Linked DNA regions of Homo sapiens. The protein of the gene in region 4 interacts with the protein of the main gene of each other region in a pairwise test. Each region holds a gene or a part of one and is shown on either strand. Other genes may lie near its edges. The genes, in order: MRM3, TTLL10, CREB5 and FHL3.

What was found.
Region 1: the proteins of FHL3 (region 4) and MRM3 interact in binary tests that used the Homo sapiens proteins (3 or more experiments, as listed by UniProt).
Region 2: the proteins of FHL3 (region 4) and TTLL10 interact in binary tests that used the Homo sapiens proteins (3 or more experiments, as listed by UniProt).
Region 3: the proteins of FHL3 (region 4) and CREB5 interact in binary tests that used the Homo sapiens proteins (3 or more experiments, as listed by UniProt).

The regions. Positions count from the first base shown.
Region 1 is NC_000017.11:778,010-785,368, reverse strand, and holds the start of MRM3 (rRNA methyltransferase 3, mitochondrial isoform 1 precursor), read right to left. Parts: upstream 3,017-7,359; 5' UTR 2,991-3,016; coding exon 2,677-2,990; intron 2,287-2,676; coding exon 2,042-2,286; intron 1-2,041. Other genes in the region: GLOD4 (glyoxalase domain-containing protein 4), read left to right, coding at 3,114-3,203, 4,631-4,755, 6,625-6,747. UniProt on the Homo sapiens protein: S-adenosyl-L-methionine-dependent 2'-O-ribose methyltransferase that catalyzes the formation of 2'-O-methylguanosine at position 1370 (Gm1370) in the 16S mitochondrial large subunit ribosomal RNA (mtLSU rRNA), a conserved modification in the peptidyl transferase domain of the mtLSU rRNA.
Region 2 is NC_000001.11:1,176,863-1,183,892, reverse strand, and holds part of TTLL10 (inactive polyglycylase TTLL10), read right to left. Parts: intron 4,988-7,030; coding exon of another isoform or gene 4,678-4,987; coding exon 4,560-4,677; intron 4,529-4,559; exon of another isoform or gene 4,338-4,528; intron 4,237-4,337; coding exon 4,156-4,236; exon of another isoform or gene 4,040-4,155; intron 3,860-4,039; coding exon 3,553-3,859; intron 3,411-3,552; coding exon 3,292-3,410; intron 3,163-3,291; coding exon 3,033-3,162; intron 2,153-3,032; coding exon 2,078-2,152; intron 1,533-2,077; coding exon 1,447-1,532; intron 1,018-1,446; coding exon 846-1,017; intron 1-845. UniProt on the Homo sapiens protein: Inactive polyglycylase.
Region 3 is NC_000007.14:28,821,513-28,826,419, forward strand, and holds the end of CREB5 (cyclic AMP-responsive element-binding protein 5), read left to right. Parts: 3' UTR 1-4,382; downstream 4,383-4,907. UniProt on the Homo sapiens protein: Binds to the cAMP response element and activates transcription.
Region 4 is NC_000001.11:38,002,485-38,009,347, forward strand, and holds the start of FHL3 (four and a half LIM domains protein 3), read right to left. Parts: upstream 3,031-6,863; 5' UTR 2,873-3,030; intron 1-2,872. UniProt on the Homo sapiens protein: Recruited by SOX15 to FOXK1 promoters where it acts as a transcriptional coactivator of FOXK1.

The DNA.
Region 1 (7,359 bases), on a different chromosome or scaffold from region 4:
GTTTTATGGAAAGAATTTATGGGAAAAGAGAAAAATTGGAAAAAGGCTAATAACAATATTAAAAATGGCTTTGAGTACATGAAATTGCTGTGGTATAGATGAAGTTATTCACATGGGTGTATCACATATCCACAAGTTTCTTTTTGAATCACCATGTTTACTGGTAGAGGTGATAATGATAACCTTTTAGTAAGCTTTTTTTTTTAAGCCAAGCACTACCCTAAACTCTTTATGTATAATTATCAAATATTCAATCCCTTTGTAGTCTGCTCCCAAGGGACTGTACAGTTTTTTTGAATCTTACTAGTATTTTGTCGTATATGATTGCTACAATAAATGGGCTACTGACTGAAGTCAGGAGATGAATGAAATAGTACTTGTACTGAAACATGATACAATCAAAGATTTAGGATTCTTTCTAAAAGATGGTGCAGGTAAAAAGCCTATCCACCACTGAAGGCAATGGAAGGGTATTAGGCGTCTGTGTGCTGTGAGAGAGCCTCCACTTCGGAGTCACAGATGGCCAAAAGCCATTCAGTAGGGCTGAGGACCTTAGAAGTCCTTTACTTCTACTTGGATGTCTGTGGTGATGAGAACCCACTATACGGAGGCCCTACTTATGTCGCTGGATTCTGGGGAGTGTCTGTCTAAAGCCTGACAGGTGCTGCCAGTTCCTATCCATTTCTCCCTTATTCCCTGCCCTCAAATCTAAAATATAGTAACATAAGGATAAGCCAGGAAATGATGAAAGCAGGTATGATGATGAAGTTCAAGATGGGTTGGCCACTGTAAGCACACCTGCCCCAAGTGACAAGCACAAGTTCAAGATGGGCTGGCCACTGTGAGCACACCTGCCCCAAGTGACAAGCACAAGTTCAAGATGGGCTGGCCACTGTGAGCACACCTGCCCCAAGTGACAAGCACGGTAAAAATGAATAACACTTTCACTGAAGCATGGCGTGTGGATTAGAGGGCTGTAGCTAGTGAGAATATGGTTACTTAGCATGAGTAATTCTAGGTACTTTAGTAATCCAAGTCCCCATCCTAGGATCTAAGAGCTCTGAGTGCAGAGGCACAGATCCCTGTGACTCACTGGGTTACAGAGACAAGAGATGGTTCCCCAGAATCTCCTCTCTCAGCAGTTCAAGGATTCAGTTTTCATATCTTAAAACTCCCATGTCAAAAACGTATGAAAAACTTATCTTCTCATATTTAGACCAAAGACTTTGTAACTGCTAATCAACATCGGAGTTACATAAGGTTAAGTCAGATTCAGCCAAATGAAGGAACAGACTAGAAGACAAGGTTCTCTGTTTATTGGGCTAAACGGGGCAGTAAATTGTGGCTTGTACCTCGCTTCTTAGATCTGCTTCTGGAATAAGCAGTTTATTGACAGTTATCACCACATTGGCAGAGGTTTTGCAAAAATGAAGGGCTCAATCTTTCAGTAAACGCTTTCTTAATTTTTAATCTGACATAGAAAGTTGAAGAAGTAATCTAAAAAATAGAAGGTTTGAGGAATAGTGGTTCTTCCTAGAGACCATAAAGAGCCACAACACAAATGATAGTGAAAAACGGGTTTCAATTTCCATTGAAAATACTCTAAGATACACAGGTTTGAGAATTATATTTTTCTAATTGTAACATTTTGAATTTCATTTCAATGCTGCTGTCCTAAGACAAGTATGAGAAATTAATCCTAGGTCTCCACACCTTAAGATACACTGTGTAAGGCCAGGCATGGTGGCTCACGCCTGTAATCCCAGCACTTTGGGAGGCCGAGGCAGGAGGATCACCTGAGGTCACAAGTTCGACGTCAGCCTGGCCAACATGGTGAAACCCCACCTCTACTAAAAATACAAAAATCACCCGGGCATGGTGGCAGACGCCTGTAATCCCAGCTACTGCGGAGGCTGAGGCAAGAGAATCCCTTGAACCCGAGAGGCGGAGGTTGCAGTGGGCCGAGATCGCGCCATTGCACTCCAGCCTGGGTGACAGAACAAGACAAAAAAAAAAAAAGATACACTGGGTAATCACTAACCCATTATTCCTTGTGGCGTTACGAGGTCGGACCAATCCTTGATATCCTCAAATTTCACCTTAATGAGGCTGACACCTTTCAGCTTATCGACTGGCAACTCCTTTAGGTATTCTAGACGGCTAAAGAAGAACATTTTTGGCACAGCTCCAGCCTTGAGAGCGTCTGAAATGAGCCTGCGACCTTCCAGCAGGATCTTCCCTTGTTTTTCCCGAAATGGCCTGGACTTTACTATTGTCATTACACTGCTGTAGATGGAAATAAAAAAAAAAAACAGGTAACTATCAACATCCTTGTTACTGAGACACGCTTAGTTGTAACAGAAATAAAGAGCTACGGAGAGGGCCGGGCGCGGTGGCTCACGCCTGTAATCCCAGCACATTGGGAGGCCGAGGCGGGCGGATCACCTGAGGTCAGGAGTTCCAGATCAGCCTGGCTAACATGGTGAAACAAAAACAACAACAAAGAGCTAAGGAGAAACAGAAGCTAATTCCAAAGACGCTTATTCGGCCCTCTGTGCATAATACAAAAACCAGCGGGCTGTACTGGAAGAAGTCCTCCATCGGAAGGAGGTTAAGGTTCCGCTGTGCGACGGGAAGGGAAACGAGAACATTCGACAGGCTCAAGAACCACATCACCTCAGCCTCCTGTCCCCGGGATAAGCTTTATCGTAGCGAAGCCCAGACTCTTCCCAGGTGCTGGGAGCGCGGGATGCGGACTCCTCGAGCGGTTGTTTCTCTCGTTGCTCCTGGGCACTGGCCTCAGATGGTGCCTTGCGGGGCTGCTTCCCAGGAGCGCGCTTCTGTTCCACCACCTCTCCGGAAGGAAACACCACTTTCACTGGGCTCCGCCGCAGCGCCCGGACCCAGCGCCTCGCGTCAAGGTCCCAAGCCTGGACCACCTGCAGCAACGGTCGCACGACAAACCTCGCGGGTCTCACCAGCGCCGCCATGTTCCCTGAGACCCGGGCTGCGTCACGAAAGCGCGCCGTCGGCGGCTAGTGACGTCACGGCCCGTGGCGCCCTTCGTGGACTGGGCTGTACGGTGCGCGTGACGGCTGCGTGCGGCGGGAATCATGGCTGCTCGCAGAGCTCTGCACTTCGTATTCAAAGTGGGAAACCGCTTCCAGACGGCGCGTTTCTATCGGGACGTCCTGGGGATGAAGGTGCAGGCCGGGGCCGACAGGGGCTGGCGCGCGAGGCTGGAACCGGCGCCCGAGCCGGCCCTGGCGGAGGGAGGGGAAAATGGGTGTGTCGTGAACCTAAGCCGGAGGGTGTCCGACCTTAGGCCCTGCGCGGTGTTCAGCTTCAGGAGCGTGGCGAGTTGCCGTTGGGGATCATAGGCCTTGGAGAAGGGCCTAACACGATTAGTCCCCGCGGTGTGCCCACGCACGTCCTTTCATTTAAGCCACTCGTAAACGTTTATTGAGCCCCGCCCTTGTGGAGCTTACCGTCTACCGGAAAAGACGGTAAATAAAATGTTATATAATGCTTTCTAGTTAATATTTGTGTTTTCCGGTTTGGAGCCTTTGATGTAGATAAAATCAGCGTATTCAGAGTTCTGCTTCTAGCAAGGCTGGTCTGAATAGTCCGTTTCGGATACTCAGTCTCTGAATATATGCTCCAACTCTCAACCCATCTGCTTTTCAACAGCACCCAGAAGCGGTCTGTCTCGGGTCCTGAGGAGCTGTTATTTGCAGGATTCAGTTGGTTGGGGAACTGGGTTTTGGGGACCTCCTTTGATAAGCCAGGGAGGTAGGGAACACACCACTAAGGAAGACTTGAAAGGTGCAAGAGCGCGGTTTAGTGTATAGACGGTGCAATAGACGGGGATCTGAATTCGTCAGGTCATTTTTAAAATATCTGCTATTTTCAGGGTACTACGTTGAGTTTTGGCAACAAAGGTGCAAATGACCCTGATATATATCCTCCATTAGAGCTCATGGCCTGGGTTGGGGTGGGAGTTGGAACTGGATTTGTACGTAGATGATGGTAATGGAAGTCAGAATTTGATAGTGAAAAACCACCAAACTTTCGATAGCAGAAACCACAGAGCTGTCCCTTGTTAGTATTTCCTCGTCGATCAAAAGGTTGTTGCAAAGATTAAACACGTGCCGGCGCGGTGGCCCACGCCTGTAATCTCAGCACTTTGGGAGGCCAAGGCGGGTGGATCACTGGAGGTCAGGAGTTGGACACCAGCCTGGCCAACATGGTGAAACCCTGTCTCTACTAAAAATACAAAAATTAGCCGGGCATGGTGGCACACGCCTGTAATCCCAGCTACTCGGGAGGCTGAGGCAAGAGAATCGCCTGTATCTGGGAGGCGGAGGTTGCAGTGAGCCGAGATCGCACCATTGTGTTCCAGCCTGGATGACGAAAGCAAAACTCCGTCTCAAAAAAAAAAAAAAAAAAAAGATTCAACACCTTATTATATGTATAGTATTTAACATATCGGTAATAGTAGATTATATAAGTGTTAGCCACTATTATAAAAATACAAAAGAAGGAGCGGTTTTCCAACCTGGGTGATGAGGAAATAATTCATGTAGACCTTGTATTCGAGTTGACTTTTTTTTTTTTTTTTTTTTTTGAGGTGGAGTCTTGCTCTGTCGCCAGGCTGGAGTGCAGTGGCGCGATCTCGGCTCACTGTAAGCTCAGCCTCCCGGGTTCACACCATTCTCCTGCCTCAGCCTCCCGAGTAGCTGGGACCACAGGCGCGTACCACAACACCCGGCTAATTTTTAAAAATATTTTTAGTAGAGACGGGGTTTCACCGTGTTAGCCAGGATTCGAGTTGACGTCTAAAGATAGGATATCCACAGGTAGATGAGAGGAGGAGCTACATAGTAAAACTGAAGAGCCAGTGCGGAGATGGCACATGTTTGCGAAGCCGCTGGTTTTATGTGCCTTTAGTTGAGGTTGCTTAGTTGAAGTTAAGGAGATGGGATATCAGGATGGACAGGTCGGCATTGCTTCTAATAGTATCTTGAATGCTATGCTAAAGAATTTGGATTTTATGCTGCAGTAAGATGGGAGCTCACTTATGTTCTTAAACAGGGTGGTGATGGGATCAGTGCTTTGTGCTTTAGGCATGTGCTTTTTTGGTGTTATTAAGGAAGGATATCAATAAGGATTTTTTTATTTTTTATTTTTTATTTTTTTTATGTTGAGACGGAGTCTCGCTCTTTCGCCCAGGCTGGAGTGCAGTGGCGCAATCTCGGCTCACTGCAAGCTCCGCCTCCTGGGTTCACACCATTCTCCTGCCTCAGCCTCCCGAGTAGCTGGTACTACAGGCGCCCGCCACCACGCCCTGCTTATTTTTTGTATTTTTAGTAGAGATGGGGTTTTACTGTGTTAGCCAGGATGGTCTCGATCTCCTGACCTCATGATCCACCCACCTCGGCCTCCCAAAGTGCTGGGATTACAGGCGTGAGCCACCGCGCCCGGCCAATAAGGATGATTTTTAATAGTCTGAGCGAAGCGTTGGGAACTTCAACTGGCAGGAGCCGTGGGAATCAAAAAGGAGGGCTAAAGCTAACACGTTGAGAGCCCGCTGTGTGCAGGGTTCTGTGAGATGCTTTCATAACATCCATTCCCATCACATGTTAGGAGACTGAGACTCAGATTCTAATTTGCTCAGAGTTACACAACTACTAAATGACAGAATTCCAAATCAGACTTTTTTTTTTTTTTGAGTTTGAGTTTTGCTCTTGTCACCCAGGCTGGAGTGTAATGGTGCAATCTCAGCTCATTGCAACCTCTGCCTCCCGTGTTCAAGCAATTCTCCTACCTCAGCCTCCTGAGTAGCTGGGATTACAAGCGCCCACCACCATGCCTGGCTAATTTTGTATTTTTTATATTTTTAGTAGAGATGGGGTTTCACTGTGTTGGCTAGGCTGGTCTCGAACTCCCGACCTCAGGTGATCTGCCCACCTCAGCCTCCCAAAGTGCTGGGATTACAGGCGTGAGCCACGATGCCCATCTTTTTTTTTTTTTTTTTTTTTTTTTTTTTAATTTGAGATGGAATTTTGCTCTTGTCACCCAGGCTGTAGTGCAGGGGCACGATCTCGGCTCACTGCAACCTCCATCTCATGGTCCAAGTGATTCTCCTGCCTCAACCTCCTGAGTAGCTGGGATCACAAGCACACGCCACCACGCCTGGCTAATTTTTGTATTTTTAGTTGAGACGGGGTTTCACTATGTTTGCCAGGTTGATCTTGAACTCCTGACCTCAGGCAGTCCACCCACCTTGATCTCCCAAAGTGCTGGTATTATAGGCGTGAGTCACTGTGCCCGGCCCAAATCAGACTTCTTTAATGCTGAAGGCCACACTTTTTCCCACTGCATAGCACTGCTTACCAATCTAAATAGATTTCACAACTGATTTGGTAGCCTGACCCTTGGTGTCAAGCTGTTCGTCCTTCCACTGCTTCTATCCTGGGAGAAGTGTAAAGCTCATTTGCTTTTGTTCTTTTACAAGTAAAGCTTATAAATGATAATGTTTGTGTTTTGACATTTTAGTCTGTGCTAAAGACGCTGTGAGCAGTACTAGCAACACTTCACAATTTATTCTAAATCTCACACCAGGTTCTGCGGCATGAGGAATTTGAAGAAGGCTGCAAAGCTGCCTGTAATGGGTATGATACCTTGTTTCTTAAAATCTCCTTTAGGCTCTGACTACACCCGGATAACAGAAGACAGTTTCTCAAAGTGAGTATAAAGCAGTGGAATTAATTAAGGAGGCAGTAAATTAGGGAGGCAACTTCAGGAGCGTCGGGAACACATACTGTTTCTCTGCACTCTCATGAGTATAAAGCAGTGGAATTAATTAAGAAGGCAGTAAATTAGGGAGGCAACTTCAGGAGCGTCGGGAACACATTTCTCTGCACTCTCATACAACACCTGTGGGACACAAAGGGATTCTCCAGCTCTCTAACACCAGCCGGCTGTCCTGTTATTTAATTGATTCTGACTCTACCTGGAGTTAATGTCAGATCCTGCAAGTTAAGGGCTCAGTCCCAGAAGATTTTCCGCCACGTCAGGCGCCGGTCACAGTCTGGATCTTCAGGATTTCCGATGACCAACTACAAGTCAGGGCTCCCGCTCCTGCTTCCTTGGGTTTGATAGTCTGCTACAGTGGCTCATGGAACTAAGGGAAACGCTGGAAACACTTACTTACATTTACTGGTTTATCATAAAGAGTACGAGTCAGAAATGGCTGGACAGAGGAGATACACAGGGCAGGGCATGGGGAGTGGGTGGCAGAGCTTCCATGCTCTTCTGGGCAGGCTCCAATCCAGCACCTCCCTACGTTCAGCATCC
Region 2 (7,030 bases), about 37 Mb from region 4:
GCTGAGCCACGGGGCCAGCCTGGCCTGCATCCCCTCACACCCCACCCCGGGCCTGTTCCATTTCCTCAGCGCCCCGCCTCTGTCCCAGGTGTGACCTCCAGGGAAAGGGGGCATTTCTGGGCCTGAATATGTCAGGGGAATTGGGAGGAAAGGCCTGGCACCCTGATGGGTGCTCCAGGGCATAACCGCAGTAGGAGCCTGGAGGGCTGCCTGGAGGAGGAGGGCATGAAGGTGGCTTTGGAGAGGAAGGGAAGGAGCGCGCCAGGCGGGCGCTAGGCAGAGGGAGCACAGCAGGCAGAGGGGGTGCGCCAGGCGGAGAGCTCGCCAGGTGGAGGGACGCGAGGGAGGAGCCGATGGAAGCTGGGGACGGCAGACGGCAGCTGTGGTCAGAGTGAGGCTCTACGAGGGCCGGGGGTGAGGTCGACAGGTCTAAACCTTCAGCCTCGTGCAGCCACGGGGCTTTCTGGAGGAAGCCTTCCCACTCAGGGAAGGAGTGGTCAGCTTGGCCATAGGCCTGAAGGCTGCAGCTGGCTGGCTGGGCCGGGGAGTAGGGGGGCTGGCAGCCGGGAGGCCACCCAGGCCAGGCCACCTGCAGGACAGAGGGGGCCCCAGCTGAAGGACAAACTGACTAACCCCTCAACCCTGGATCCTGTGTCTGTGACCCCGGCCTGGTGTGACCCCTCCCCTCTGCTGGCTACACGGGGGCCCGGCTGTGGTCTGCACAGGGGCTGGTGGTGCGGCTGCTTTCCACGACCAAGGGCTCCTCGGCGGCCCTGCTGACTGCACCAGTGGGGCCCGGGTCAGCCAGCCCAGACCCTCACCCCTCCGGGCACCCGCCGCCGCACCTCTGCACCACCCGCGCCTGAGGCCCCCGGAACGGCGTCTTGTGGTGGATGGGGTCGTCCTCCATGCTCCGGGTCTTGGCCTGCAGGGCGGCAACTTCCTCCTGGTTCCGGAGCAGGAAGATGCCTTTGCCCTGGTTGGAGGCTGTGGGCTTGCAGATCCATATCTGGGTTTCTGCAGAGAGCGCGGCCTGAGCCCCTGGCCTCGCCCCCAACCCAGCCACGCCCCTCCTAGGGCCCGACCAGGACCCTCCCCTCCAGGCTGCGACCCTCGGCCCGGCCATTCCAACCTTGGCCCTGCGCTAACCACACGCCTGGCCCCAGCTCCTGCCCGTGCCTCGACCACGCTCACCCGGACCAAGCTCCAGCCCTGGCCCCAGTGCCCTCATACCCCAACCTCCACGAAGGCCAGACCCTCCCCTTTCCAACTCCTCAGTCCCCACCCAGACCAGGCCCAGCCCTGGCCCCTTCCTGACCACCTCGTCTCGTCCCAGCCCCACGCAGCCCCTCCAGACCCAGCCCTGCCCTCATCAGCCCCCGCCTTGGTCCAGCCCTCACCCTGTCTCCCCAGGGCCAGCCTGGTGTCCGGCCAGCAGCGTCTCACCATCAAACAAGGTGAAAAAGGCCTCTCTCTCGTGTTTGAGGTCCAGGCGGTAGGTCTCTGGGAAAAACTCTTCCATTCTCAGGACCCTGCAGGGCAGGGAGGCAGGAGGATGAGCTGCTGTCCCTTCGCCCCTGGCTGGGTGGGCGGTTTGAGGCCCAGCCTGTGGCCCGGCGGGAGGGAGTGTGGGCAGTGGCACCTGGCGCCCGCGGCCGTTCTCCTTGTGGGGACTTTGCGTTTCCTGCCCCTTTGCAGCACCCCCCCAACGGGCTGTGCTGCTGGCTGCATCCTTCTGGCCGCTGACCCCCACCCGGGCCCCTCCCGCTGGCTGCTTTTTCCCTCATGGTTGCTCTCCCGGCTGGCACCGTCTCAGCCATTTGTGAGCCACCACCTCATGGCAGTGTCCTCACGGCTGGGATGGGCGGAGAGCGTGGCCTGAGCCCCTGGCCCTGCCCCAGCTCTGTGTGCACTGGGGGGTCAGCGTGGATCTCGGCCTGGCCTGGCTGAACCTCTGACTCTAGCTCGTGGTTTTCCTTTGTGTGGGACCCCCGCCCCGCTTTCTCCTTTTCAGACGACACCAGGTTTAGGTCTGAACTTCGGTCTGAAGGGCCCCTCACAGCTGGGCTGAGTCTACCTCTGTGGCCTGAGGTATCCTGGGCTTGTCCACGGGAGGTCCTCCAGGGCGGGCGCTGCTGCGTCCTTTTCCAGCCTGCAGCCCAGGGGACAGAGGGCCTGGACTGAGGGGCCAGCTCATGGTGCTTGGAGCGGGTGGGGACTGGGGGATGGGGCATGGGTGGTGAGTGGGCGGACTGTGAGTTGTGGTGGAAGGAGGTGGCTGGGTGGACGGCGGTGCCTGGGGGAAACAGCTGTGTTGCTCTAGGCTGGAAGTGGACGCTGGACATGGTGTAAAGCTGGTGTCACAGGCAACCAGGGGCGGGGGGTGCAGATGGAGGCAGCTGCGGTTGGCTGGGCGGGTGCTTGGTGCAAAAATGTCTGGGCCAAATGAAGTGAGGAGGGATAGGTGGGTCCATAGAAGGGCAGTGGGCAGGGCTGGGAGCAGGAGGACGAAGTCGCTAGGATGGATGGCCCAGACTTGGGTGAGCGATGGACGGCCTCACTCAGGGCACCCACAGGTGACGGTGGGCACGGTGTGGGATTGTGGATGGATTGGATGGATGTTTGGGGTGAAGGCAGATTGACAGGTGGGTTGTACCTGGGTGGGTCTGTGAGATGGACAGGTGGGTGGGTGTCAGGCCCAGTGGGTTGGGGACGTGTGGGATCTTCCCCGTTCAGCCACGAGGAAGAGGGTGGGTTTATGGGACAGGGGTTTGGCCCTTTAAAGGACAGGTGGAAGGTGGAGGCAGGTGCTGACGGGTGGGGGCTGGGGCCAGCCTGGGAGCCCAGGTGGCCAGGGGCAGGGGCAAGGGCAGGGGCAGGGGCTGGAGCCAGCCTGGGAGCCTGGGTGGCCAGGGGCAGGGGCAAGGGCAGGGGCGGGCGCAGGGGCAGGGGTGGGGCGGGTGCAGGGGCAGGGGCAGGGGCAGGCGTAGGGGCGGGCGCAGGGACGGGGGCAGGGGCAGGGGCAGACTCACCTGGCCTGGACCCCCCCCGGCACCTTGCTGGCCTTGCTCATGGCCCGTGCCCGTCCCCGAAGGGTGCTGAGCAGCCCGATCTTGGTGGTGAGGAGCTTGTTGTTGGGAAGCTGGTACAGCAGCTGCTCTCCTGGAGGTCAGAGGCCAGGGCTCGTGTGGAGGGAGCGCAGGACCTCGGTCCCCACCCCTCCAACCTGCCCTGTGCTCCGGCCCAGGAGGCCCCTGCAGGCTGCCCGCCTCTGGTGCCGGCTCCCGCTACCTTCCCGGAAGCTGCCGTAGCTGTCTCGGCTCTTGACCTCACACCACTTCAGCGTGTAGTCGTCCCGGCGGCTGTCATGGATGCGCTGCCAGCCCTTGCTTTTGCAGTAGGAGCTGATGCTGCGAGGGGTGGGGGCGGGGGTGACCTGGGGGCCGAGGCAAGGGGTTGGGGATGGCGGGCGGCCAGCGGAGGCCGGGCTGGGCCCCGGGAGCAGGCGGTGGGTATTCAGTGGGACCACGGGCGCCCAGGGCCGCTACTCACATTGTGGCCCCGTTGCTGCCTCCAATGTAGAAGAAGGGCCCCGGCCGGGTGCTGTGGGGCGATGGCTTCCCACCCCCCAGCAGGAGCCCCTCCAGGAGGGCAGCTGAGGGCCCGGCGGCGTTAGTGTCATCCGAGTCTGCAGGCCGGTGGCTGTTCAGGAGCCCAGGGGGTCCGGGTGTGGCAGAGGCTCTTTCTGCCCCCTCCAGGTCCGGCCCACAGTGTCCATCTGCGTCGTGGTCTGGCTGGCTTGGCTGACACCGGAGTCCCTCCTCCTGGCTGCTCCCCATTGGCCTCTCGTGGGCCGGGCCTGTGAACGGGGTGGGGTCCCACCGGGGTGGCTACGGGAGCTGCCCACTCAGCCCGGACATGGCTCAGCCAGTTTGCTCCCAGCCCATTTCTCCAATACCCTGGACAATCCCCCTGGCCCGTCTGGGGCTCAAGTTCAGCCCGAGCTCTGGCCCCACCAGGCGGCCTGGGGACTGCTTACATCTGGGGAGGGGCCGTGACCACCCTCCAGGGCCAGGCTTCCTGCCGGCAGGTTCCAGGTGGGGGTGGGGAGCTTGGAGCAGGGGGCAGGGAGGTCGCCCCTCCGACCCTCCTCACCAACAGGGCAGTGGCCTGGTGCAGGGCAGGGGCCGGGCTGTGAGGCCGGTGCTGGGTGCAGACGTGACGCAGGGATGGTCCCTGGAGGGCAGGGGTCACAATGTCCATGATGATGTCATGGGTGACCCAAGGGGCCATTGTCAGGCCGGGAGACGAGGGGCTGCCCTTCCAGGGGTGGTGCCAGCCAGGCGGAACCCTGGGCCGCGGAGCGCGACAGCTCCCCTCTGTGCCTGCAGAGCCCGGCGCCCACAGCTGGCCCCTCTCTCGGAGCAGCGGGGCATGGCCATGTGTGGATCCTGCCCCTGCCCCATGAGGCCGACTGACTTCCTTGGGTATGGGGCACCCGTCCCAGGGAGGCCTTGGCCTTGGAGAGGTAGGAGGCCACCCAGGGCTGCTCTATTCACCTGAGACTCGAGCCCGAGGCCTCTGCTGGATCCTTGGCCTCTTGCCCCTCTTGAAGCCGGCTCGGGTCCGAGTGGGTGGTCCCCGGCGGTGGATGAACCGGGTGCAGCTGTGGTCCATTGGCCGGGGGGTGCCCGGGCGAGGGCCCTGAAGGGAAGATGCCGCTCTGACCCTCCTGTGGGACCTCCGCGCGGCCCGAGGCCCCAGTGCTTGGATGGAGCAGGCAGTCAGGCCCACCCTGCCCAGGAAAGGGCGCCTCCCAGGGCCGTGGGCTTGAGCCTCTGCGTGCGGCTGGCTCCCGTCTCTGTGGCAGCTGTGGGGCCTGGCGCCGTGTGGGGGCGAGGCTGTCTCTGCACCCTGTCTCTGCCGGGCATGTCCTCCCTGGCCGGAGCGGCTCTTCAGGTGTGGCTGAGCTCGGCCTGGGTGCCGGCTGGAAGGAGGGGCAGCGTCAGGCCTGCTGGGTGGGGCGCCTGCCTGAAGAATGGAGGGTGGGAGGGCTCCTTGGCCTGAGCAGGGGTCTTCTCTGTCTCCGCTGCTGACCCCGGAGCCCAGCTGTGGGCTGTGTGCAGCCGCCTGGTACCTGCCATCAGGGTTCCTCTGCGGCCGCCCCTGGGTGCCAGGCCCGACCCCCAGGACACTGTCTCCAGCAACACCTTCCCATGTTGCAACTTAGGAATTTTCAGCCAGTTCCTCGACAGATCTTTCTACCTCTGTCTCCAGCAAACAAACCCATCTTGGGGCTGCTTGGGAGGTGAGAACTTTTTTTTTTTTTTTGAGACGGAGCTTCATTCTTGTGGCCCAGGCTGGAGTGCAATGGGGCGATCTAGGCTCACTGCAACCTCTGCCTCCCAGGTTCAAGCGATTCTCCTGCCTCAGCCTCCCAGGTAGCTGGGACTACAGGCACCCACCACCATGCCCAGCTAACTTTTTGTATTTTTAGTAGAGATGGGTTTTCTCCATGTTGGTCAGGCTGGTCTCAAACTCCCGACCTCAGGTGATCCGCCTGCCTCGGCCTCTGAAAGTGCTGGGATAACAGGTGTGAGCCACTGTGCCCGGCTTAGGTGAGGGCTTTCAAGGGTTTGAAGGAACTCGCCCAGGAGACAGGGGAGCACACGGCAGTGTTGGGCAGAGGCTGTGGGGGCTCTGAGGCTGGAGAAGGCTGGGGTAGGCCTGAGGCTCCAGGCTGGGCACAGAGCTCGGCACCAATCTCACCCGCAGGAAGCCTTTGTGTCTGCCCCTCCCTGCCCCGCCTGAGTGACAGGAGGGAAGGAGACAACGAGGAAGCCCACGGGCAGGGGAAGGTGGGGAAACTGAGGCAGCCGTCTGCACGATGACCCAGTCGGGTGGGGCCACTGGGACCCGTCCTCAGGGAGGAGCGGAACACAGGCTGGGCCCCCCACCTGTGTCTGGGAGAGCCTCACGCCCTCTTCCTAGGGTGGGCTGGGCAAGAATGGAAGAAGTCAGGAGCCCTGAGACCCCTCCCCACCCAGAACAGGAGGACTTTTGGAAGAGGCTGGACCCTGCGCAGGCACGGAGCAGGTGTGTGCGTGCAAGACTCTGCATTAAATGGGAGACCTCAGCTCCTTCTCATGGGCCCTCAGCACCCAGGATTCCTGCTGGGGAAGGGGATCCTCTAAAGTACTGACTCTCAGCCAAAGGGGCTGCCCAGGCCCAACAGGCATCATCAGAGGGACTCCCAAGTGTGAAGAAGAGTGACACAAGGACAGCCGGGCGCGGAGGCTCACGCCTGTAATCCCAGCACTGTGGGAGGCTGAGGCGGGCAGATCATGAGGTCAGGAGATTGAGACCATCCTGGCTAATATGATGAAACCTTGTCTCTACTAAAAATGCAAAAAATTAGCCGGGCATGGTGTTGGGCGCCTGTAGTCCCAGCTCCTTGAGGGGCTGAGGCAGGAGAATAGCTTGAACCTGGGAGGTGGAGCTTGCAGTGAGCTGAGATCGTGCCACTGCACTCCAGCCTGGGCGACAGAGCGAGACTCCGTCTCAAAAAAAAAAAGAATGACACACAGACACATTTACACACACACACGCACAGACACACAGCTACACACAGACACACACAGACATGTCGACACTTGCACAGATGCACAGACACACCTACACACACAGACACATGGATGCACAGACACACCTACAGACATGCACACACACACCTATAAACATGCACAGACACACCTACAGACACCTACACACAGACACGTCTACACACACACGTACACACAGACACACACACAGACACCCACACACACACACAGACACCCACACACACAGACGCTGACACACACAGACACGCAGACATGTAGACACACAGACACACAGACGCACACAGAGGAAGAGAAAAGGGGAGAAACAGGGAAACAAACCAGCCTGGAAAAGGCTGGGGTGATGGAGACAGGACCCCTCAGAGAGCCGCGTGCTTTTAAAGCAAAGGCACAGAGAATACAAAAGAGCC
Region 3 (4,907 bases), on a different chromosome or scaffold from region 4:
AATAATTTTCTATTATATTTTAGACAAACATATCATTTTCGAGTATTTTAAATACTGAATTCATAGTTGTTGTTTTTTAAATTCCAACAGTAACAGCTGAATGGTTTAATCTGACTGGCTTCCTAAGAAATGTTTAAGACTCAGCTTTAAAAAGAAGTTAACATTCATATCTCTGTTTTGAAATCAAAAATCATATTTCAAAATTCTTTCCTAGGACCATCTATGTGTCTCCCCTCCCCTCCACAAAAAGGAGAAAGAGTGCATTAAAATGTTTAGTTGGGTTTTTTAATTTTTAATTTTTATGTTATGTTTTGCTTTGTTTTAAGTAAACAAAAATTTTTCTTTCTTTACTGCATGCATAGCACTTAATAAAATGGATTTTTAAAAAATCCACTAGTAATATCAGAATGTCCAGGGAGTGACTGTCACTACAATGATGGTTTAGTTTACTTCTGTTCCACCTTTTGATTGAAATATTTAGTTGTTAGGCTGAAAGCCTCGGCAGTTAAGAACTTGCCTGAGTTTTCTTCGTTCAGCAACTTGACAGTTTGACTGATGTGCATTATATATAGCTCAATTATGTCTGTTTTTTATGCTAAGTAGGAAAACCAACCACACACATTAGCAAACCGGCCTCAACATATAATTAGAATAAACTGTCTTCTTGTTCTACTCAGGGCCTTTAGGTGTGTTCATTCACGGTATGGAAATACAGTAAATGAAAGATTCCAACTAGTTGTCAGTGCTTCTTGAAATTCCAAACAGAAAGATACATTGGTCAAATCCAACACTTGGCTTATCAATATTAAGTCTTTTACCTAAAGGCCCAGCCGTCACCAGACAACAGAATAATCAATCTGCCTGAAAATCCCTCCTCCTTGTCCTACACTTTTTGCCTGTTTGGGAGAATATCTTTGTACTCCATTCTCCTCCCTCAGCCAGTTACTGGGTCACCCATCCATGTGTTCATGAATCAATCATCACGGCCTGCAGAGCACCTGTCCTAAGGAGGGAAAATCCTGTCACACTGCCTCTCCCCATTCGTGTGTGGTTTTCTTGATCGGTGAGATCTGTCTCTGAAGTCACTGCCAGCCTCCCTGGGAACGTCTATAGTGCCTCCCCTGCCTTATGTGATGGGAGTTAACAACTCAGATAAGTACACCTGAGAGCATTTCTATCAGGTAAACTGTCACTTAAATGGAGGTGTCCACATCTTAATTGTTTCTCCTTGACACATTTCTCAATCCACGAAGCCAGGAGAGGTAGAGTGAAAATCCCAGCCATGGATGAATGTACTAATTTGAAAGCCAAGTGTTAAGTCGGATGTTTTCCCGTTACACTACTACTCAGCCCTCTCCTGCGGCCACATCAACGGATGCAAGTCACAGTCTTAACACAGCCTGTGGGAGACAAGCAGTTTGTGTGCTCACAGTATATATTATAGTAATTAGGGTGACTTAGAGCAAATACTCTTCAGATCCTATGTAGTCAGTGAAACAAAATGGAGAGCGTATTCTGATAGAAGGACGTCGACGGTGAATGTTCTGGTGGTTGTTGCCTGTTAAGTAAACTTTAGTGTGTAAGTTGAGTTTGTCATTAAAATCATAAACCAGCTGCGGTAACAGACAAGCCTTTGGCTGGGGAGTTTTAAGCCTCGGTAACTGCTATAAAACTAGCCATCCAGTTAGGATAGAATGTGTTTCTTTCTGGTTAAAAAAAGGAAAAACCATCTAAGAAAATATATATGTATGTATGTGTGTATACAGTGGAATTCAAAGGACCAAAGCAAAATTTGAACAGGAATCTATTAATTTAGAATTTTATAAGATATTTATTAATAAATGTTATTTTTAAACATTCCATTTGAACAGTATTCTGTAGGATCTACTTGTTTTTAAAGTGTTAGTCCATAATAAACTACTATAGTTATGTGTATTTTCATTTTTCAGGGTTTCAAATGGCTATTCTCCATCATTTGGTGGAAATGTTTGCTTAGATCTCTGTGCATAGACATTTCAAGGATTTTTATTGCTCTGTGAGTTATTTTTTAATCAACATTCTGAACAGTTTTTTTTAAACATTTATTTCTGTGTGTTCATTTTTAAAGTAAGCTCTTTCATTTAGGAAGCAGAGTTCAGCTAAAGGGAATCAGTAACTCTAACTGGAACAGCTTTCTTGTAGAAGTGTAAAAACAGCTTCATCTCTGCCTCTCTCCACCCCACCCCAATTTCCTAGAAAGCCTTGCACTATTCAGCTCCCTTAGTGCTTTTTGTCCCTTCCCGAACAATATGCAGTAGCTTTAAGCCATTCAAGCTCCATTATGCAGTATATCTGAGAAGGGAAAGGAAACAACCCATTTAAATTTGAATAAAACCGTGCCTATGCGAACAGTAGCAATTTAGAATCTCTTTTCTGCTTTTAAAATAATTTATATTTAAAAATTGCACTTTAGCTTTTTGATCCCTTTGTATTTCTCTTATTCTCTTTCTAACCTCTTCTCTGTCCTCAAACTTGCCTTTGCTCTCCTTTACAATACCCCCCACCCCTCCTCCAAGGCTCTGAGCGGCATCATTTAAAATACTTTACAGATATTTGCACCAGGTACATTTATGTGCGTCCATTGGTAGCACAGCTGAGACCTGTGTCTCACATCAGCCTAGGTGAAGCCTACTACAAGAATGCCAAGGAGAAGAGCCAGTACACTATATGGTTTATACTCTTTATCCCTTTATTCATAGCATGTTTTTTAAAAATGTTATATTATGCAACAGATGTGAGGCAGCAGCTAAGCTATACTTAAGAATTTTCTCTCACCTTCCAAACCAAAGTGTCCTGAATAAGCCAGGAGACTTATTCTTTTGTGCACCCTGGTGCACATCTGACTGTTGTCCTAGCCATAGACTCTCTGAGGCCACTGAAAGAACAGTGGCCCTATCGATTTCATTCCTAGGTCTCAAAAATACAATGTTGCCTTGTAACATAATTAGGGACAGCACCTCTATTTCACAATTATAATCTAAGGTAGGATAAGACGACACAGCAGCAATAAACTTACAAGTAAAATTCAATACCAAAACAAACACAAAGAAATTTAAAAAACAAAAAACCTAGCTCATCATGTTGTGAAAATGAAAAAGTGAATGTCCATTCAAAATATTTTACTATTTCTTGTGGAGTTTTTCAGTGATGTAATGCTTGTAGCCAAATTGCTTAAAGAGTGTTTATATATTTTTTTCCTTATAAATTGTCTATTTTTTAAAAAAGCTATTTAACCACAGCTGAAGTGGGGGGTAAGGCCAAATTGCCAACACTTGTTAAAAGATTAATACTCTTAAGTGGCACTCTGATACCTTTCCAACTTGTCATCAGAAAGGAATCAATAATTACCAACTGTTGTATTTAGACCAACTTACAATATCTAGCTCATTAGAAGCCAGGATCTAGAAAGCTCCTTCTAAGCCATTTAAGATATTCTTACATTGAGCTTCATATTATAGAACTTTATAGGATTGGATATTTTACAATAGAATAATTTAGCCTCAGGACTGAGAATGTGGAAGCTGAATAAATTAGCTTTAAATACATCATTAAAATCTTATGCACAATAAGCTCATTAGATTCTAGTTTTCTCCTTTAGAATACCAATGCCACAGACACTACAGGAGATAATGAAAGGTATCAGTTGTGTTGAGTGGAGGGAGTTTAAGAGAAAGGACCCTTCCCAACCAGCAGCCAGTAGAAAATACAACCTACTCACCTTTTTCCCTTCTAAGTTCTGCTAAATCACATCTGCCTCATAGAGAAAGGAATGTTGCCTTTGAGAACTGTCTTGGAGAACAGATAAGCTTGAAATGTTCTCTCTAGAGAGGACATAGGGTTTGGGATCCTCTGAAAAGGCCCAGAAAAATAGCTCAGTTCAAATACAATGTTCTAGGACAATTGGAATATAAATATTGTCCAAAAATATAATTAAAAGAAAAAAGTTTAGCACTGTGTAAAGTAAGTGTTAACTGAGGAAGTCCCAAAAAGGTGCTGTCACTTTAAGTTCTGGACTTGGGGTTCTTTGTATTTGTAAACAGCAAAGCATTTGTGTTTGTTTGTCTATTTGTAAAGCAACCACCTTCCTTATTGGAAGGAGAAAAAAAGGGGTACATACATGTAAATACTTGCTGCAGCATTTAATATGTTTAATTTTGTGTTAAGCTTTTTGTTGCATCGTGAACACATTTATTGTTACCAATGGACAATGAGTTCATTAAGACTGTTCAACTAGGTCAGATTTTTACATCTCTTTCTAGCAAGAAGAGACAAGATTTTGTGCATTTGTACAAATGTTAATATCACTGCAATTCCAATATAATAAAGCACTCAAATGCAAATAATATATGTCACCTTTGTATGATGAAATTTGGGGTTGGGGGTAATGACATCTATTCCTCACATAGTCTTGTCAGAGGCATGTGAACCAGAGCAACTCCATCTTGAATAGGAGCTGGGTAAAATAAGGCTGAGACCTACTGGGCTGCATTCCCAGAAGGTTAAGGCATTCTAAGTCAGTGGATGAGATAGGTTGGCCCAAGATACAGGTCATAAAGACCTTTCTGATAAAACGGTTTGCAGTAATGAAGCCAGCTAAATCCCACCAAAACCAAGATGGTGACAAGAGTGACCTCTGGTCGTCCTCACTGCTACACTCCCACCAGCGCCATGACAGTTTACGAATGCCATGGCAACGACAGGAAGTTACCCTATATGGTCTAAAAAGGGGAGGCATGAATAATCCACCCCTTGTTTAGCATATCATCAAGAAATAACCACAAAAACGGGCAACCAGCAGCCCTCGGGGCTGCTCTGTCTATGGAGTAGCCATTCTTTCTTTCCTTTACTTTCTTAATAAACTTGCTTTC
Region 4 (6,863 bases):
TGGGTTCCCAAAGTGCTGGGATTACAGGCATGAGCCACAGTGCCAGCCCAATTTTTTTTTTTTTTTTTTTTTTGAGACAGGGTCTCACTCTGTCACCCAGACTGGAGCGCAGTTAACTCCATCTCGGCTCACTGCAATCTCCACCTCCCAGGTTCAAGCGATTCTTCTGCCTCAGCCTCCCAAGTAGCTGGGATTACAGGAGGGCACCACCATGCCCAGCTAATTTTTGTATTTTTAGTAGAGATGGAGAGTTTCGCCATGTTGGCCAAGCTGGTGTCCGCTCAGCCTTTTTGTTTTTTTTTTTTGTTTTGAGTTGGGGTCTCACTCTGTTGCCAGGGCTGGAGTGCAGTGGCACGATCATGGCTCACGGCAGCCTCGAACTTCTGTGCTCAGCCAGGTGAGGTGGCTCACACCTGTAATCCCAGCACTTTGGGAGGTTAAGGCCGGTGGATCACCTGAGGTCAGGAGTTCAAGACCAGCCTGGCCAACATGGTGAAAACCCATCTCCACTAAAAATACAAAAATTAACTAGGCATGGTGGCGGGCGCCTGTAAGCCCAGCTACTCAGGAGGCTGAGGCAGGAGAATTGCTTGAACCGAGGAGGTGAAGGTTGCAGTGAGCCAAGATCATGTCATTACACTCCAGCCTGGGCTACAACAGCAAAACTCTGTCTCAAAACAAAACAAAACAACAACAAAAAAAACAACTCTGGGCTCAAGCAAACCACCTGCCTCAGCCTCCTGAGTAGATGGGACTACAGCCATGTGCCACCATGCCCAGCTAGGTTTTTCTATTTTTTGTAGAGATGGGGTTCTCACTATGTTGCCCAGGGTGGTCTTGAACTCCTGGCTTCAAGTGATCCTCTGGCCTCAGCCTTCCAAAGTGCTGGGGTTACAGGCGTGAGCCACTGTGCCCAGCCTGGTCTGAAATTTGACCTGGACATTCTCAGCATAGGCCCAGGGAGAGAATAGGGGGCCCCAGGCCCATGGGGCTTGCTGAGGACACCAGTGGGGAAAGTGGTCGCTTCAGTCCGGTCAGCCTGACTCTAGTAAGCTTAACTCTTGAGATCTCTCATGCAGGTCCACGGATGTAGACACCTGCATGCTGCTTTGCCACTCACAAAGTCCATGCCCACCACAATCTCATCAGATCTCACAAAAGGCAGGCAGGACAGAGTATCATCCCCATTTTACAGCTGAGCACAAGGAGGCCAGGAATAGAGCAGGTTCATGCCCAAGGTCCCGATCAGGACCCAGGTCCCCTGCCTCCCAGCCCAGAGCTCTTCCCTCTCCCTAAAAATGCTGCCCTGGTGATGAAGCGGATGGTGACATGGGGGTGGTCAGTTTTTAAGGGCAGGGGAACAGGAGATGCACCAGAGCCTGGCTCTTCTCCTCAGCTGCTAGCCCTGTGATTGGAAGACACCCAGAAGCCTTTCCAATGCCCCATGCCAACCATTCAATCCTTCTGCCCCCACCCCCAACATGCCCACTGTCCAGGAGGACCCTGGCCAGGTCCCACAGCTGTGAGTCAGGATCAGAACAGACCCCTCCCCCACCTTCTAGAAGCTGACAGGAGACTTAAGGGGAGAAATCCAACTCCCTCAACCCTCACCCTCTGCTACCGGGCACCAACCCCAAGCTCTGCTCTCCCCCATGTGGCCTGGAAGTCAGAGAAGTTTAGGGAAGGGGGTTGGGGAGCAAGATCCCGCAGCTGCTCTGGGGACATGAGAGGAACAGTTCATTCACCCTGGGTCCCCCAGGGCTGAGGCAGCCCATCCAAGATTTGAGTTCAAAAATAAGTTGGGGCTGTCTTGGTGGCTGTGTGTGTGCGTGGGGCTCTTCTTGATCTCGAACTTACTGTCTCAGGGCCTCTGCCTCATGGGGGATCGGTAGGCTCAGAGTTTCTGTTTCCCCACAGCCTCACCTCCCAATGGTTCAGGCCCGGGTAAGTCAGGGGCTGTCCTGGAAGCTGTCAGACCACCTAGGTCTCTCTGCCCCCACTTAGTCTCAGTTTCTGGTGTCTGTCTCTGCTTCACTCAGCATCTCTGTGTCTGGGCACACTTCAGTCTCTGTCTTTAGGTTTTGGACGGCTCTGTATCTTGACTGGCTGTCCCCCAGGGGGCCCATGCCTCTGTGGATCTCAAGTCTTGGTCTCTTCTTGTCTACATGGCTGAATGTCTCAATCCCCACCACCTCCCTTTCTCTGTCTCTGCATCCAAGTCTCTTTCGCCACCTCTGCACGCCTGAATGTCTCTGTCTCTAGTCTCTGAGCGTCTCTGCAGGCCTCAGAGAGCAGATTCAGCATGAGGCCAATGACGCCCAAGCCTCAGGGCACCTCCAAGGCCCGGGGAAGGGCCCTAGGGAATGTGTTCGCTGGGGTCCCACGTATGCTTTTTCTGAAAATGCTCCACAAAGCCTAGGACGGCCCCCATGCCTCGGGTCTGTCCACCAGTAACTCTGTACGCCCGGTGTGTCCTTGTTTCAGTGGTCTCGGTAGCCTCCTGTGCCTCGAGTCCCTGCCTGTCTCGGTCTCTCGCTCCACCGGGCTTTCCGAGAACCTCAGTTTCTCCAGCGCTTCTGGTCGGTCGGTCTGTCTGTCTCTCTCCGGCTTTTCTATTTCAAACTTAGCCCCCTCCCCCGCCCAACTCTCGCTGCCGCCCCCGCCCCCGCCCCGCCCGATAGCCCGGAGGGGTCCAGTCCCGGCGGGCGCTGTCCCGGGCTCGGCGTGCCCCGGGCACCCGTGGCCAGAGCCCGGCGGGTACAGGGGACCGGGGCCGCGGCTGGCCTCAGCCCTCCGCGGGTCCCTTCGCTCCCCGGCCTGGGCGCGGGGGCGGACCGCCAGGGCTGGGAGCCGGGGTCGGCGGGGCGCTCACCTCGAAGCGGGCGGCGGGAGCGGGGAGCGCGCGGCGCAGGCGGGGCCGGGAACCGGGCGCCGCGTCCCTCGGCGGCTCCTACCTGCGGGCCGGGCCAAGCGGGGGCCGAGCGAGCTGCCGGCGAGGCTGCCGACTGCAGACGGACCGTGTGGGCGAGTGGGAGCGCGGCCCCAACCCCTCCCCGAGGAAGTGAGCGCGGGCCCGCCCCGCCCGGACCCCGCCCCCGGCCCCCCAGCCCGCCGCGGGGGCCAGACCCCGCCCCCACCTCCCTTTCGGCCGCCAGTCGGCCCGGCCCCCTCCTCCCGCCCGGCCTAACCTGGCTCTCCCAACCTTCAAGCGGCCGGGACCCCGCCCCTGTCCCCTCCCCGCAGCCTCTGTTCTCCTCCCCTCCCACCCCCCATCCCCAGCTGCCAGAGGGAGACTGCTGTATTCCATCTCAGGCCGGCGACACGAGACCCCGCAGACCATGGTCCACTGGGGGAGTCCTCTGGCCTCCTCGGATCCCCCCACCCCTTCACCTTACCCCAGGGGTGACACTCAGCCCGGCCTTAATCCAGCCTGGAGGAGGACGTTTTGACTCTGCTGTCATGAGCCTGTCAGCGGGCACCAAGGTGTTCTCTGAAAACATGGGACGAAGAGAGGACCCCTCCCCACCATAGGGCCTTGACCTCCAAAGGGTTTTATTCCACAACTTTGAGTAGCAAAAACAGGGGTAACCACCTCCCCACTTCCAGCAGCCTCCTGACACTGAGAAGTCCTGCCTTGCCTGGGTTTCCGCAGTGCCCAGGAATAGTTTTGACCTTTGAGGCCCGGGGGAGACCCTAATCCTCGGCCCCATGATCTTTGGGCTTCTAGGGTGGGGTGTGAGGAGTGTGAGAGGATGGGGCACCTCAGGGGTGGTGGAGGAGAGGGGAGGGGACCTCTGCGGTGTCTGAGCCTCTGGCTTCCTCCCTGTGTCCGTGAGGGAGGACTGGCGCCTGCTAGGGACACGAGGCCCCTCCAGGTCCTTAAGGCCACCCCCCCTGGGATCCTCAGGCTTGTCACTAGGAATAAATAGCCTCAGTCTGGAAGAGGTGGGGGAGGGAGGGAGGCAGGAGGCTCTACTGTGCTGTTTGTGGAAACAAGAGACAACAAATCAACCCCGGAATAACCTTAGCATCTAGAGTGAAGATTCAGGTGCCCACAGAGGCCTCCCCACACCCCAGGCTGGGTGTAGCAGAGCTCTCACGGAGGAACTAACACCCTCCCAGGCTGGGGCTCCTGAGAACCTTTCCGTCCCATCTCTGCATCATGCCTGGGTTCCTGGGTCCCAAGTCACCCACCAGGTCTGGTTTCCTTTCAAAATTAAATCATTGCTTGCTTATTATTGCTGTTGTTGCCTAAATGGTAAGAGCCATGAAGGCAGGGCTCCGTTTTGTTCCCCACTGCCTTCTCAGTACTTACTCCAATATCCGGCACATAATAAACATCTGATGAATGAATGGATACCAGACACTGCTTCAGTATGTATGCCCCTCTAACATCCTCGGTTTGGATCACAGGCACCTGCTATCTGGAGTCCAGGCAGTGAGCATCCAGCCCATGGATGGGGCCTTTTTCTGGGATTTTTTTTTTTTTTTTTTTTTTTTTTTTTTTTGAGATGGAGGCTTGCTCTGTTGCCCAGGCCGGAGTGCAGTGGCGCACTCTCCGCTCACTACAACCTCCACCTCCCAGGTTCAAGCGATTCTTCTGCCTCAGCCTCCCAAGTAGCTGGGACTGCAGGTGTGCACCACCACGCCCGGCTAAATTTTTTTTTTGTATTTTTAGTAGAGACGGGGTTTCACCATCTTGGCCAGGCTGGTCTCAAACTCCTGACCTCAAGATCTGATCTGCCTGCCCCAGCCTCCCAAAGTGCTGGGACCACAGGCATGAGTGACCATGCCCAGCCTCTCTGGGATGTATCTTGCAGGTGTAAGAGACTCCCAGCCCAGGGGAGTGCAGTGAAGACTACTCAGCCTTGGTGGAGTGGGTACCAAGAGGAGGTCAGCTCTGGGGGACGGGAGGGCAAAGGTGGGGAGCCTTCAGAAAGCAAGGGGTTATGAGTGAGTACAGAAGGGGCCTGATAAAAGGCAGAGTATTGGAATCTCTGTTCTTGATGCATGGCTCTAATCTCTCCTAAATAGCCTTAATGAGAGCCAGTACTTCCTGAGTTCTTTCTTTGCACCAGTCCTGAACACTTTACATATATTGACATACCTGATTATTCAATAACTTTATTAAATATATGTGCATCTATATTTGTTTGTTTTTGAGACAGTGTGTTGCTCTGTCACCCAGGCTGGAGTGCAGTGGTGTAATCACGGCTCACTGTAACCTTAACCTCCTGGGCTCAAGCGATCCTCTTACCTCAGTCTCCCAAGTAACTGGGACTACAGGTGTGGGCCACCACACTGAGCTAATTTATTTTAATTTTAATTTTTTGTAAAGGCAGGGGTCTTATTAAGTTGCCCAGGCTGGTCTTGAACTTCTGGGCTCAAGCAATCCTCTTGCCTCAGCCCCACAAAGTGCTGGGATTACAGGCATGAGCCACTATTCCTGGCCTAAATATATATTTTCATCCTCATTTTAAAGATGAGAAAATGGAGGCACAGAGAGATTAAGTAACCTGGCAAGGGCGACACAGGTAATAATGGCAAAGCTAGGATACAAATCCCAATGGTTGGCCGGGCTTGGTGGCTCTTGCCTGTAATCCCAGCACTTTGGGAGGCTGAGGCAGGAGGATTGCTTGAGCCCAACAGTTTAAGACCAGATCTGGGCCAGGCGCGATGGCTCACGCCTATAATCCCAGGACTTTGGGAGGCCAAGGCGGGCGGATCACGAGGTCAGGAGATCAAGACCATCCTGGCTAACGCAGTGAAACCCCGTCTCTACTAAAAATACAAAAAAATTAGCCAGGCGTGGTAGCAGGTGCCTGTAGTCCCAGCTACTCTGGAGGCTGAGGCAGGAGAATGGCGTGAACCCGGAAGGTGGAGTTTGCAGTGAGCCGAGATTGTACCACTGCACTCCAGCCTAGGTGACAGAGCGAGACTCCGTCTCAAAAAAAAAAGACCAGATCTGGCAACATAATGAGACCCCGATCTCTATTAAAAAAAAAAATCAAACCGACTGGGGGCGGTGGCTCACGCCTGTAATCTCAGCACTTTGGGAGGCTGAGGCAGGCGGATCACGAAGTCAAGAGTTTGAGACCAGCCTGGCCAACATGGTGAAACTCTGCCTCTACTAAGAATACAAAAATTAGCTGGTTGTAGTGGTGCATGCCTGTAATCCCAGCTACTTGGGAGGCTGAGGCAGGAGAATCGCTTGAACCCAGGAGGAGGAGGTTACAGTGAGCCAAGATTGCACCACTGCACTCCAGCCTGGGCGACACAGCAAGATTCTGTCTTGGGGAAAAAAATAAAAATAAAAAATCAAATCTGGACAGTCAGAAGTCATAGCACCCTATGCCAAAAATGAGCTTCACCATTAGGCTCTAGTATCTGTAGTCATTTAATCTCTGTGAACCTCAGTCTTCTCACTGTGAAAAGTGAATGAGTCTGCCTCACAGCATTGTTGTAAGGATTGGATGAGAGCACACAATAGATTGTCAATATGTGGGGACAGTCCCCACTTTCATGATCAAATGTTAAGGTTCAGCTACTTGGACTTGGAGTCTGGGGGCCAGAGAAAGTTAGCTCTCTGGCTTGGGCCACCTGGGCTAGGGAGAGCGGCCTAGGGGCAAGCCGCCCACAGTGAAGCTGTGTCTCCCTGTCTCAATTTCCATTCCCCAGGAGGCTCACATTTCTCTGCTCACTCTATTTTCGTTGGCCCAGGAGGACGTGCCCCAGGGAAGTCCAGGGATCAGCCACAAGGACTCCCTGTTCCTGTTCCCTATCTGTCCTCCTCCCTCCCTGGGAAACAGGTGTGTCTGAACTGGGGCTGGAAGCAGAGCCTGAGAGCTGGATGACTGGCCTTG